Linked DNA regions of Homo sapiens: region 1 is linked to region 2. Evidence: fine-mapped expression QTL. A gene starts in region 2. The other region holds a variant in brackets. All regions are shown on one strand. Distances are between the middles of the regions. Region 1 overlaps ZNF655 (zinc finger protein 655). Region 2 holds the start of ZNF394 (zinc finger protein 394).

Region 1 (2,916 bases), 74 kb after region 2:
ATGACATGAGCTTCAACCAGAATTCAGCCTCTGGTAAACATGAACACTTAAATCTAACAGAGGATTTTCAGAGTAGTGAATGTAAGGAAAGCTTAATGGATCTCTCCCACCTTAATAAATGGGAGAGCATCCCTAACACTGAGAAATCCTATAAATGTGATGTATGTGGGAAAATTTTCCATCAGAGCTCAGCCCTTACTAGACATCAGAGAATCCATACTAGAGAGAAGCCCTACAAATGTAAAGAATGTGAAAAGTCTTTCAGTCAGAGCTCAAGTCTTAGTCGACATAAAAGAATACACACTAGAGAAAAACCTTACAAATGTGAAGCATCTGATAAATCCTGTGAAGCGTCTGATAAATCCTGTAGTCCAAGCTCAGGCATAATTCAGCATAAGAAAATTCACACCAGAGCCAAATCTTACAAATGTAGCAGTTGTGAAAGAGTCTTCAGTCGTAGTGTCCACCTTACTCAACATCAGAAAATTCACAAAGAGATGCCCTGTAAGTGTACTGTATGTGGCAGTGACTTCTGCCATACTTCATACCTACTTGAACATCAGAGGGTCCATCATGAAGAGAAAGCCTATGAGTATGATGAATATGGGTTGGCCTATATTAAACAACAAGGAATTCATTTCAGAGAAAAGCCCTATACGTGTAGTGAATGTGGAAAAGACTTCAGATTGAATTCACATCTTATTCAGCATCAAAGAATTCACACAGGAGAGAAAGCACATGAATGTAATGAATGTGGAAAAGCTTTCAGTCAAACCTCATGCCTTATTCAGCATCACAAAATGCATAGGAAAGAGAAATCGTATGAATGTAATGAGTATGAGGGCAGTTTCAGTCATAGCTCAGATCTTATCCTGCAACAAGAAGTCCTCACCAGACAGAAAGCCTTTGATTGTGATGTATGGGAAAAGAACTCCAGTCAGAGAGCACATCTAGTTCAACATCAGAGCATTCATACCAAAGAGAACTCATGAATGTAATGAAGATGGGAAGATATTTATCAAATTCAGGCTTCATTCAGCATCTGAGAGTTCACACCAGGGAGAAATCATGTATGTACTGCATGTGGTAAAGCCTTCAGTCATAGCTCAGCCATTGCTCAGCATCAGATAATTCACACCAGAGAGAAACCCTCTGAATGTGACGAATGAAGAAAAGGTATTAGTGTTAAACTCTTAATCGACTCCTGCAAATCTATACCAGTGAGAAATCTTA[C/T]AAATGTATTGAATGTGGCAAATTTTTCATGCTATTAGTATTTTCATACCTTAGTCACATTTGGAGAATTCACATGGGAATAAAATTCCATTGCTGCAATGAATGTGAAAAAGCCATCAGTCAAAGAAACTACCTTGTTTAGTATCAAATTCACGCCATGCAAAAAGATTATAAATGTAATAAGCATGTATGTGTGTGAGGAGATTCAGTCATAACCCAACGCTCATTCAACATCAAAGAATTTATACCTAAGAGAACTTATTTGGGTGTAGTAAATGGCAGATCTTTCAATAGGAGTTTAACTAGTCTTTGTCATATCAGAATATCCATAGTAGACAAGAATTTGATGTAACGCAAATGGAAAAACTCGACACCACATTTCAGGCTTTACCCAACATCGAAATAATGGAGAGAAAATTGTTGATTATTTGTTTATGAAATTGTTAATACATAGTCCCAATCTTTTTCATTGCACAAAAATCTAGGGTTGACTTGGTAAATGCAGTGACATTTTCTCATGGAGTTCCTTTATTTAATATGTATTCTAAGTAGGTACGTTTATTTTTACTTTTTTATTATAATTTTGATATTAAAAAGAACAGAGATGGGGTCTTGCTTTGTTGCCCAGGCTGGTCTTGAACTCCTGGCCTCAAGCGATCCTCCCACCTGTCCTCCCAAAGTGCTGGGGTTACAGGCGTGTGTCACTGTGCTGGGCCTATTTTATTTATAGAACTCATTTAAGCTGTTTTTATTTTAATATGCCCTATAAACATTTTTATATTTTTTGAAATTGGTTCTTAGTGTTCACAACTTCCATAAGATACTGCTAATGCACCAGTATTAAAACACATCGACGTAAGTAGCTCATTTAGCTTTTTCTGCTGTTCTTGGCCCAAGTTCTTTCCAAAACCAACTCTTAGGCCTGCTCTTTACTAGGGATCTTATGTCGTATTGCTTTACAGCCACAACACTTGGATTCCTGTTGATTAACTTCTCCATTCTCTTAAGCACCTTTAGAAGATTTAGAAGTTTCCTAGTTTTAAGTGTTTCACCAGCAAGTATTCCATACCTACTTGATGTTGCTGGTCTGGTGTCTTATTTCCTAAAGTGAAGCATCTTTTTTTAAAAAAGAATTTGATTGACAATATATCCAGTCCAATATAAGTATGAAGGATTCTCTCTCCTGAGATTGTAGCAGGCAGCCAAACATTTTCAAATGATGCCCAAGGTTTTAGCTGTCTTGTGTGCATCCACAGTCTGCGAAGAAGACATGATAAGGACATCAGGGAGCCAACAAGACTCCTAATAGCCTCACTACATTCATCCAGTGCCTATTCTGCATGCCTAAGCTTAGAGTTCTTTTATATACCTCTACGGCCAGCAAAATGCTCAGGTCTGCTCTTGGTAGGGTAAACATAAAGAAGATACACAGGCCGGGCATGGTGGCTCACACCTGTAATCCCAGCACTTTGGGAGGCTGAGGCGGATGGATCACGAGGTCAGGCAGTCGAGACCATCCTGGCCAACATGGTGAAACCCCGTCTCTACTAAAAATACAAAAGTTAGCCGGGTGTGGTGGCACGCGCCTGTAATCCCAGCTACTCAGGAGGCTGAGGCAGGAGAACTGCTTGAACCTGGGAGGCGGAGGTTGCAGTGAGCCGAGATTGCACCACTGCACTCCAG
Region 2 (2,916 bases):
CACTAACACTCTTCTTGAGTCTTGTACCGACAAGGGAGTTTGGAGAGATCAGAGATAGAGGCTGACATTCTCTTGTAATCCTGAAAAGCCTTTCTGTGGACTATTTACACTAATTTTGGAGGTAGGTAGGAGCAAAATATTTCTTTAACTTATATCACTGTGATGTATGGGAATGGAAATATGATACAGATTAAAAGTAAACAAGGCCGGGCGCGGTGGCTCACGCCTGTAATCCCAGCATTTTGGGAGGCCGAGGCGGGCGGATCACCTGAGGTCAGGAGTTCGAGACCAGCCTGGCCAACACAGTGAAACCCCGTCTCTACTAAAAATACAAAAATTAGCCGGGCGTGGTGGCGGGCGCCTGTAATCCCAGCTACTCGGGAGACTGAGGCAGGAGAATCGCTTGAACCCGGGAGTCAGAGGTTGCAGCGAGCCGAGATCGCGCCATTGCACTCCAGCCTGGGCAACAAGAGTGAAACTCCATCTCAAACAACAGCAAGAACAACAAGAAAAAAAAAAAAAAGAAAAGAAAAAGAAAGAAAACCAGTAATCCGTGTTCGCTTTATGCTGAGGTCTATAACAAGTCATTTCCTGGATGGATCTGTCACTGTGGCCTACAGAAAGGAAGTCCATACACACCCCAATGTTCACACGAAATGTAATAAGGAAGTAAGTTCCGAAACGCAGAGCACCCCTAAACGCCTATTTTCCACACTCCCACCTCCAGAACAGGCCTTTCGCTTCTCACCTGGGATGAGGTTCCATCGAGCGCTCGCTGCAGAGCCCGCACCACGGCCACCGCCTCCTCCCCGCTCTCTGGGCAGTGCTCTCGCACCCAGGCTTGAAGCTCCTCGGGCAGGATGGTGAGGAACTGCTCCAGCACCAGCAGCTCCAGGATCTGCTCCTTGGAGAGCAGCTCGGGTCTCAGCCACCGACGACAGAGTTCTCGGAGCCGGCTCAGCGCCTCTTCCGGTCCAGCCACCTCCTGGTAACGCAGCTGCCTAAAGTGCAGTCGAGAAGTTTCGGGGTCCGGCGAAGCCGCGGGATAGTTGGGCTCCCAACTTCCGGGTGAGTCTTCCTCCACTTTCACGGGCAAAAGTCCGTCGCGTTGGGACGGCGCCGCGTCCTTGGACCTCGCAGCCATCACCCAGGGTCCCAACTCGGCGTCACTGCCGCGCCTCTGGGCGGTCAAGCTGGAATTCATCTTTCTCCGGCATGTGCTGCCCTTCCTGGAGTCTTCTTTTCAGGTGAAGAAAGAGCAAACCCAAGGAACTCATCAGCCGTCAACACCCTCCGGTCCCAAACACCGGGCCCCACCACACCAGGCCCCTCTCCACACTCTCCTTTCCTCAGCTTTGCGCCTACAACTCTCTCGGTCAAACAACCGAAAACATCCCGTGCCGGAAGCGCGTCATCGAGGCCTTGCGGCACCTTTCCCTGCATTTCCGGGGCCTCTCTAGGCGCCTGATGGGGTGAGGTGCATCTCGCTGGTTTATCGTCCTAGCCCCGCCCGACGCAGAGGGTCTTGACGGTTTCCCGCATCCCGAGGAAATACGGGCGTCCGAGCCGGTGGCCGAGCTCCGGCAAGGGCGGGAACCTTCAGGATTAAATAGACAGGGTCTGGCTCTGTCGCCCAGGCTGGACTGCAGTGGCGCGATTTCGGCTCACTGCAACTTCTGTCTCCCGGGTTCAAGCAATTCTCCAGCTTCAGCCTCCCAAGTATCTAGGACTACAGGTGCGCGCGACCACGCCCGGTTTATTAATTTTTCTGTGGGGATGGGGTTTCATTATATTGCCCAGGTTGGACAAAGTTGTTTTTTTTTCTTTTTTCAGGCGGACTCTCGCTCTGTCGCCAGGCTGTCTTAGCCTCCTGAGTAGCTTGGACTACAGGCGCGCGCCACCATGCCCGGCTACTTTCTGTATTTTAGTAGAGATGGGGTTTCACCATGTTGGTCAGGCTGGTCTGGAACTCCTGACCTCGTGATCCGCCTGCCCCGGCCTCCCAAAGTGCTGGATTACAGGCGTGAGCCGCTGCGCCCAGTTGGAAAAAGTTTTGTTTTTTTTTTAAAACTAAGTGCTTCCATGTACATCAGATGTTAACGACTTTGATCCTAACAAACAAACAAAAAAGATGAGGAAATTGAGGCTCAAAGATGTGTCCTGGCCTGGCTCAGTGGCGTATGCCTGTAATCCCAGCATTTTGGGAGGCTGAGGGGGGAAGATCGCTTGAAGCCAAGAATTGGAGACCCCAATGTCTACAAAAAATAAAAAATTAGCTGGGTGTGGTGGTGCACACCTGTAGTCCCAGTGAGAGGTGAAGCTAGTTGGACTTCCTGGGTCCAGTGGGGACTTGGACAACTTTTCTGTCTTACAAGAGGTTTGTAAAAATGCACCAATCAGCGCTCTGTAGCTAGCAAGAGGTTTGTAAAATGCACCAATCAGCGCTCTGTAAAATGGACCAATCAGCAGGATTCTAAAAGCAGCCAATCGCAGGGAGGATGGAAAAAAGGGCGTTCTGATACGACAGAAACGGACATGGGAGGGGACAAATAAGAGACTAAAAGCTCCCACCCCAGTCAGCGGAGGCAACCGGCTGGAGTGCTCTGCCATGCTGTGGAAGGTTTGTTCTTTCGCTCTTCACAATAAATCTTGCTGCTACTCACTCTTTGGGTCCGTGCCATCTTTAAGAGCTGTAACACAGTGAAGGTCGGAGGCTGCATTCTTGAAGTCAGCGAGAGGATGAACCCACTGGAAGGAACCAACTCAGGATACACCACTTACTTGGGAGGCTGAGGTGGGAGGATCCTTTGAGCCCAGGAGGTAAAGACTGCAGTGAGATATGATCGCACCAGTGCACTCCAGCCTGGGTGACAGAGCAAGACTCTGTCTCTAAAACAAAGTGTCTTGGTTGATGTC

The links. PIP is the estimated chance that this variant, and not a neighbour inherited with it, causes the effect.
Region 1: its variant is fine-mapped to the expression of ZNF394 in whole blood (TOPMed, PIP above 0.99).

What each region holds. Positions count from the first base shown.
Region 1 is chr7:99,572,593-99,575,508 of GRCh38, forward strand. It overlaps ZNF655 (zinc finger protein 655), which reads left to right. Exons shown (of 3, transcript NM_138494.3): 3 at 1-2,916. The coding sequence ends at 992. Among named protein-coding and RNA genes, the nearest start is that of ZNF655, 15 kb to the left of the region's middle. The variant C/T (reference allele first, on the strand shown) is at 1,234.
Region 2 is chr7:99,498,890-99,501,805 of GRCh38, forward strand. It overlaps ZNF394 (zinc finger protein 394), which reads right to left and starts at 1,392. Exons shown (of 3, transcript NM_032164.4): 1 at 749-1,392. The coding sequence starts at 1,204. RefSeq lists enhancers at 1-500, 723-1,002.